Regions from separate parts of the Homo sapiens genome. Here regions 2 and 3 are each linked to region 1. The links come from fine-mapping of genetic effects on plasma protein levels. A gene starts in region 1. Each other region holds a variant in brackets. All regions are shown on one strand. Distances are from middle to middle.

The links. PIP is the posterior inclusion probability: the model's chance that the variant is causal. The UK Biobank Pharma Proteomics Project read protein levels with antibody pairs (Olink). The fine-mapping took linkage between variants from a reference panel, not from the people measured, so its PIPs are less certain.
Region 2: its variant is fine-mapped to the plasma level of the SORD protein (UK Biobank, PIP above 0.99).
Region 3: its variant is fine-mapped to the plasma level of the SORD protein (UK Biobank, PIP 0.93).

Annotation. Positions count from the first base shown.
Region 1 is chr15:45,021,755-45,024,518 of GRCh38, reverse strand. SORD (sorbitol dehydrogenase) reads right to left here and starts at 1,324. Exons shown (of 9, transcript NM_003104.6): 1 at 1,170-1,324. The coding sequence starts at 1,235. RefSeq lists an enhancer at 1-605 and a silencer at 1,375-1,544.
Region 2 is chr15:44,074,713-44,077,476 of GRCh38, reverse strand. All of the region lies in intron 1 of FRMD5 (FERM domain containing 5), which reads left to right. Among named protein-coding and RNA genes, the nearest start is that of FRMD5, 120 kb to the left of the region's middle. The variant G/A (reference allele first, on the strand shown) is at 1,672.
Region 3 is chr15:44,934,264-44,937,027 of GRCh38, reverse strand. No RefSeq gene overlaps it. Among named protein-coding and RNA genes, the nearest start is that of TERB2, 21 kb to the left of the region's middle. The variant T/C (reference allele first, on the strand shown) is at 1,485.

The sequences.
Region 1 (2,764 bases):
TCTGTTAACTAACAAAACCTATCACCTTGGGTATGGTACTTTCTTCAACTGAGGAGATGGAGAGTCAGCTGGGACAAGGGTTCTATAGAGGGGCTTAGAGCGGCTTAAAGGGAGTCCTTGAGCAGTCTGAAATTGTTGCCAAACTCAGTCTATTTGCATTCTGTGGAGGGGACACCACAGATTCTTAAATAGTCAAGAACTGCTAACCTGGATAAGCTTCTGAATTACTGCAGTTTACATACTGACGCATGTACTTTGAGGGAAAAGAGGTACAGGGGAGCAGCAGAGATGGCTGGCACTCATCCCACATACCCACTGCCATCCCAGGCCCATCTGAGAGGGACTTTGTCAAGGGAGGCTTGGCATGACTAGGCTGCTGACTCAGCCACTTCCTAAACTTTGGTGCCACAAGCCAGGGAGCAAAAGGCAGGGTCTAAGGCAGAGGACACACATACAGAATGCTCCTAAAGGGACAGAGGCACGGGATTGGAAAGAAAAACTGCTGGAAAGTGAACCAGACAGGGTCTTAGGGAGAGAAGGATCCTTACAGACAAGGGAGCTATCAAGATCCACAAGTCTGGCACAGGCAAGGGGAACAGCAGGGGTTCTGGAGATGGAGGCCTAGACTGGAAGGAAAGGAGAAGGAGCTGGCACTTCCTGAGCACGTACTAAGTGCTGAGTACTCTTGTGATCATCATAATCCTGCAAGGGAGGTTTATCAGTCCCAAGCAAGGGAGTTAAATACAAGTTCTGCTGTTTCTAAGTGTCCTCTGGCCCCCCTTTCTCTGCTCTGCACGGTCTGCCCCGATAATTCAGACAGCCTTAGCATTTCCTTTGGAAAGGTCAATGACAAGAGGCTGGACTATGAATCTGCAGCTGGCAAAGGAGAGAGAAAGCTTCATTCAAACAGTTTGCAACCGTCCTGGGCACCGGCCACGTGCCAGCCACGGGGCTAGGTTCCGGGAGGCACACGACTAGATCCCTGCCCTTCGCAACAGCCACTACCTGCTGCCCCCACACCCCGAGGGGAACCAGCTGGGATCTGGGCAGCCAGGGCGCTTAAGGTGCGGGGCCGGCGCCAGGCTGGAAGTGGGAAGCCAGGACTATGGCTGGGCTCAGAGGAGAGTGAGGCAGGATCGGTATGCTTCCCACCCTCCTTCCCAGCTTACCAGGCGCAAGTCCCCCGGTCCGTGCACCACCAGGGAAAGGTTGTTGGGCTTGGCCGCCGCCGCCATGGAGCTCTTTTGGCTCTGGAGTGCGGCCTGGAAGGCGCGGGACGTTTGGTCGCTCTGGTGGCGCTACCCAGCCGAGGGTCCAGGGCACTGGATGGAAGGTGGGGCCTGGGAGAAGCGCCGCACGCAGGGGCGGGACTAGGCTTCCTCCTTTGTGCCAGCCTGGGCGGCGCTAGCGTGGAGGGGCGGGGCTTCCCAGCCTCCTCCAGACCCGGAGGCGGGGCGGGGCTTCGGGAGGGGGCTGGGAGCGAGAAGCCCGGGTGCTGGCTCCATCTGCAGCGCGCTGTTTTTTTTGTTTGTTTGTTTGTTTGTCGCCGAGGCTGGAGTACAGTGGTGCGATCCCGGCTCACTGCAAGCTCTGCCTCCCGGGTTCAAGCCATTCTCCTGCCTCAGCCTCCCGAATAGCTGGGACTACAGGCGCCCACCACCACGTATTTTTGTTTAGTAGAGACGGGGTTTCACCGTGTTAGCCAGGATGGTCTCGATATCCTGACCTCGTGATCCACCCGCCTCCGCCTCCCAAAGTGCTGGGATTACAGGCGTGAGCCACCGCGCCGGCCCTGCAGCGCGCTGTTTTTGCCGCCTCACATGCAAGCACACACGGCTGCCTTGAAAACCGCCTGCAGAGGCAGTAGGCACCAGACCAGCGCTCTCAAACGTTAGCTGCAGAAGAATTGGGGTGGGGAATGTGAGGCGCTGTTGAGAATGCACATTCTCAGGACCAGCACAGAGATTCTGATACAGTAGGTCTAGGTCTGAGGTGCTGCCTGAGGGTCCATATTCCTAGCAACGAGAATGCTGAGGCTGTGGGTGGAGCACGGTGTGCACTTTGCGAGACAGGTGCTACCATGACGCAGCGTCCACGTCGGCCCTTTGTCTCCAGCCCCCAGGAAAGGGCCTGGCACGAGTAGGAGTAAATGAATTCGTGCATCATTACATGGGCCTGGTGCTTAAGTATAAAAAAGACATGAGGCCGGGCGCAGTGGCTCTTGCCTGTAATCCCAGCACTTTGGGAAGCCGAGGCAGGTGGATCACCTGAGGTCAGGAGTTCGAGACCAGCCTGACCAATATGGTGAAAACCCCGTCTCTACTAAAAATACAAAAATTAGCCGGGCATGGTGGCATGCGCCTTAATCTCAGCTACTCGGGAGGCTGAGACAGGAGAATAGCTTGAACCTGGGAAGCAGAGGTTGCAGTGAGCTGAGATCATGCCATTCAACACCAGCCTGGGCAACAAGAGTGAAAATCTGTCTTTAAAAAAAAAAAAGCCATGAAATGGAATTTGTGAACCTCTTTCTCTCAACTGGATCTGCTGCTTCTATTCAAAGCAGAGTTTCTGCCCAAACTCTTCCTTCAAGCCTCTCAGCCCTCTGAGAAACAGTGAGGTTTTACTCTCTGAGGAGAGAGGCGCTTCTAGATAGGCCTAAGTCTATAAGGCCCCTCCCTCCTTTGAGGATAATGCTCAGGATTTCATTCCCTTACAGTCCCCCCTCCCCAATATGTAACCGCCCAATGGATTCACCTTGCCTGCT
Region 2 (2,764 bases), 950 kb after region 1:
TATTTATCATTTCTTTTTGTAATCTCTTACAGTTTTGGTTTAGTTTTTTGACAATGCAGTTGAATATATTCTCCATGTGTTTAAGAACATTTTAAATAAGTGCCCATTTCTTTGTAATGATTTTTCTCAGAAACAAACAAATCCTCAAGCTACTCTAGTAATATTCCTACTCCAGAGTAGTACACCATAGCTCTTGAGAAGAAAAGGAAAAATAATAGTTTCTGTGTGTTTTAAGTGGAAAGTAGTTTCTTTGATTTACATGAACATTAAGGCATGATAGGTAATGACAATTTATTCCTAAAATGTATTCAGTTACCCATTGACATGGATATGTCATAACCTGTTATGCTTGACTTATAGATTTCCCCAGGGAAAATGTTCCAAGAGAGTGAGCAAAAGAAATGTTTTCTGGGGAAAGTATCAAGGCGAGAGTGTTGTTATTTCAGACATCACAACATTTCCCTATAGCAGTCTATATCCAAGAATAAATCTGTGCTAGCCAAGCAGATGAATCTGGCATTTCTGAGAATACATGTGATGGTTGAATTGAGATTTTTGGTAACAACTGTGGGTCACTCTAAGATACCCATTTCTGGACATCTCAGACTGAGAGATGACTATAAGAGGTATCATTTTAAGTCTGGAGACCAGAAAGCCTCTATACTTGTTCATAGAGCTTTTTTTTTTTCTTTTCTTTTTTATTATTATAATTTAAGTTTTAGGGTACATGTGCACATTGTGCAGGTTAGTTACATATGTATACATGTGCCATGCTGGTGCACTGCACCCACTAACTCATCATCTAGCATTAGGTATATCTCCCAATGCTATCCCTCCCCCCTCCCCCCACCCCACAACAGTCCCCAGAGTGTGATGTTCCCCTTCCTGTGTCCATGTGATCTCATAGTTCAATTCCCACCTATGAGTGAGAATATGCAGTATATGGTTTTTTGTTCTTGCGATAGTTTACTGAGAATGATGATTTCCAATTTCATCCATGTCCCTACAAAGGACATGAACTCATCATTTTTTATGGCTGCATAGTATTCCATGGTGTATATGTGCCACATTTTCTTAATCCAGTCTATCATTGTTGGACATTTGGGTTGGTTCCAAGTCTTTGCTATTGTGAATAATGCCACAATAAACATACGTGTGCATGTGTCTTTATAGCAGCATGATTTATAGTCCTTTGGGTATGTACCCAGTAATGGGATGGCTGGGTCAAATGGTATTTCTAGTTCTAGATCCCTGAGGAATTGCCACACTGACTTCCACAATGGTTGAACTAGTTTACAGTCCCACCAACAGTGTAAAAGTGTTACTATTTCTCCACATCCTCTCCAGCACCTGTTGTTTCCTGACTTTTTAATGGGAGAAAATTTTCGCAACCTACTCATCTGACAAAGGGCTAATATCCAGAATCTACAATGAACTCAAACAAATTTACAAGAAAAAAACAAACAACCCCATCAAAAAGTGGGCGAAGGACACGAACAGACACTTCTCAAAAGAAGACATTTATGCAGCCAAAAAACACATGAAAAAATGCTCATCATCACTGGCCATCAGAGAAATGCAAATCAAAACCACAATGAGATACCATCTCACACCAGTTAGAATGGCAATCATAGAGCTTTTCATTTATCTGAGTGTTTTCCTCTGCTTGTC[G/A]GGACTTGTGCTTTCACGAGCTCCTGCTCTCATATCAGGGGAGTGAATAATTGAATTTGGATAGTTTTTTGGTTTTTAGTTGGAACACTCCTTTTCCTGTGGAACGTCTATAGAAAAAATGAGTCAAACAGAGAATATGCAGGGGAGGCAACTCTGAATGCTTCCATGGCTACATACATACCTGTTTTCTTTGATTTGCTAAACCCTAAGTTAAAAGGAAAGTACTGTCTAAAATAGGGAGAAATTCCCTATATTTATACCATCATTTGAGTATTTACAATGGAGTGTTTTGTATTATAAATGTCAAAAAGGTTGAGACAGGACTCACTTAAATTAAGAGGGGAAACTTTTTTTTAATGATGGAAATAGGGGCTTAATAAACTTACATCTCCTTAACTCCTTTAATATTTGTAATAAACTATGACTGTTCAAGAGTTGAGCAGTCTCTTGTTTGAAGAAATTTATTCATTTTCCTTCAAAATTGGCACCACTTTAGAATTTCCAGTTGAGATCTATTTGGCTAAGACCTCATTTCCCATCCAATTCATTAAAATTGTTGATGTTCAAGCCAGGGAGAGGATATTTTCTGGGTCTACTTATGATGGCTCTGTATCAAACCAGCCATGTTTAGAAACCCTCCAAGGCCTATGTGATTTTTTAAAAAGAAATTTATTATGTGGAATGAAGAAGCAAACATGTTCTATTTTATACTATTCAGAGCCAAGTAATCAGCCATTTCCCTCAGGAGTCACTTGTGCTAAGAGCTGGCCTGGACCGGGAAAGGCACTGTAATGGCTGCTCATCACCCAGAGCTGCCCAAGCACTAGCTTCACCTTATAGCTCAGAGGGACCCCAATGGTCTTTTCCTTAGTGCTTAGGTTATTAGTACTAGACCTCTGAAATGCAGACCTAAGAAATGCCTGGTGATGGCACTAAAGCTGACGTCACTATGAAAAGCAGGCAGGAGGTATTGTACCCCTTGTGAGGAAGTTTAAAAGTTTCTTATAGCAACTAACTTCTCCATTAACAAATAAATAGACCTTCCATAGCAGCTAGAAGGTACCTCATCCCCTTTATTGAACTGTGGCCATGG
Region 3 (2,764 bases), 87 kb after region 1:
CATACTGATTTCTACTTTCAGTATTCTATAAGTTACGGGAAATATTCAACACTTGATTATAAAAGAAGGTTTGTGTTGGATGATTTTGCCCAGCTGTAGGCTGATCTAAGTGTTCTGAGCATGTTTAAGGTAGGTTAGGCTAAGCTACGATGTTCAGTAGGTTGGGTGTATTAAATGCATTTGCAACACGATATTTTCCATCTACGGTGGGTTTATTGAGATGTAGCTCCATCATAAATTGAGAGCATCTGTACAATACACACAACGGGACATGATTCTGCCTTAAGAGGAATAAAATTCTGATACAGCCGACAACATGGATGAACCTTGAAAACATTATGCTAAGTGGAATAAGGCAGACACAGAAAGACAAAACCGTATGATACCGCTTTCACGAGGTACCTAGAATAAGCAAATTCACAGAGACAAAAAGCAGAATAATGGTTACTAGAGGCTGGGGAGTCACTGTTTAATGGGTACAGAGTTTGTCTGGGATGATGGAAAAGTTCTGGAAATGGATAATGGTGATGGTTGTACAGCATTGTGAATGCACTTTAGTGGCACTGAACTGTACACTTAAAAGTGGTTAAATGGTAAGTTTTATGTTACAAACATTTTACCACAATAAAAAAACAAGTATAGGCTGGGCACAGTGGCTCATGCCTGTAATCCCAGCACTTTGGGAAGCCAAGATGGGCGGACCACTTGGGGCCAGGAGTTTGAGACCAGCCTGGGCAATATGGTGAAACCCCATCTCTACTAAAAACACAAAAATGAGCCAGGCGCCAGTTAAAAAAAAAAGAAAAAAAAGCAATACATGCATTATATTTTAAATTGTCATTAAATGTGAATATCTGTAATATTGACTTACCTATCACCTGTTTCCTTTTCTGTTAACAGTATCTTGCATTTTTTCTTTCTTTCTTTCCTTCTTTCTTTCTCTTTTTTTCTTTCTTTCTTTTCTTTTCTTTTTTTTTTTTTTCAGAAAACACATTATCCATCCCAATCCACACCATAAAATTAGTCACATAACTCAGGCCTGGTAAATCACTGTGCTTCATCCCATATAAGAGATAAATGGTAAAAGACAGTAAAGTGCTGGGCACACTGGCTTACGCCTGTAACCCCAGCACTTTGGGAGGCTGAGGTGGGTGGATCGCTTGAGCTCAGTTTGAGACGAGCCTGGGCAACATGGAAAATCTCATCTCTACAAAAACAATGAAAATTAGCCAGGCGTGGTGGTGCATGCCTGTAGTTCCAGCTATTTGGGAGGCTAAGGTGGGGGGATTGCTTGAGCCCAGGAGATTGAGGCTGCAGTGAGCCGAGATTGTGTCACTGTACTCCGCTTGGGTGACAGAGCAAGACCCTGTCTCAAAAAAAAAAAAAAGGAAAAGAAAAAATTGAAACCCAATCCAGACAAATCTGAAAATGTTCATTTTTCAGAGGTCATTCATTTTCACTTTTTTACAAGCCAGTTTGAATTG[T/C]TTTCAGTAATTCATAAAAGAAACAGCCCTTATTTATGAAAATAATGGAAATTATGAAAATTAAGAGATATACGATAGTGGGATAGGAACAGAAGATGAGATGGTTTTCATTTCATATCATTTTACATCTTAAATTTTTTTTTCTATTTATTTTTCAATAAAGAAATAAGGTCGGCATGGTGGCTCATACCTGTAATCCCAGAAGTTTGGGAGACCGAGGCGGGTGGATCACCTGAGTGCAGGAGTTCGAGACCAGCCTGGTCAACATGGTGACACCCTCGTCTCTACTAATAATGCAAAAAAAAAAAAATTAGCTGGGCATGGTGGCAGGCACCTGTAATCCCAGCTACTCAGGAGGCAGAGGTGGGAGAATCCCTTGAACTTGGAAAGTGGAGGTTGCAGTGAGCCGAGATCGCACCACTGCACTCCAGCCTGGGCGGCAGAGTGAGACTCTGCCTCAATTTAAAAAAAAAAAGGAAATAAAAAAATCAATGTGACCAATGTAGGTTATTACCTCATGAGGCACTTGCTTAAAGCTGCCAGTCACAAGGGTGATTTAACACTTACCCTCAGCAAGCAAGGTGAGACCCTGTGAAAGGCTAGTTACCCAGCTATGAGAGATGGCAGAGGCTGAGATTACTGAAGCTCTCACTGCTAAGTTTGAATTAGATTAAGACACGAGAAACAATTGAAATGTCTGTTACAGGCTGAATGTGTCCCCCTAAAATTCATATGTTAAAGTCCTAACTCCCAATGTGACTGTAGTTGAAAACGGGGACTTTAGGGGGCTCCTAAAGGTAAATGAGCTCATGTGGGTGGGGCCCTCATCCAATAGGACAGGTGTCTTTATGAGAAGACAGAGGCACCAGGGATGCAGTAACCAGAGACAAGGCCACGTGAGGACGGAGTGAGACAGGCGGATCATGAGGTCAGGAGATTGAGACCATCCTGGCTAACACGGTGAAACCCCGTCTCTACTAAAAAAAAAAAAAATACAAAAAAATTAGCTGGGCGTAGTGGCCGGCCCTGTAGTCCCAACAACTCAGGAGGCTGAGGCAGGAAATGGCATGAACCCAGGAGGCGGAGCTTGCAGTGAGTAGAGATCTCACCACTGCACTCCAGCCTGGGGGACAGAGCGAGACTCTGTTGCAAAAAAAAAAAAAAAAAAAAAAAGTAATAAACCAGTGTGAGGTGCTGTGGAAAGGAAAGGTGATCAAGTATAGGCTGGAGTGTTGATAAACACCTGTGGTTGGATAGCAAAAATGTATTTCTAGCTTAGC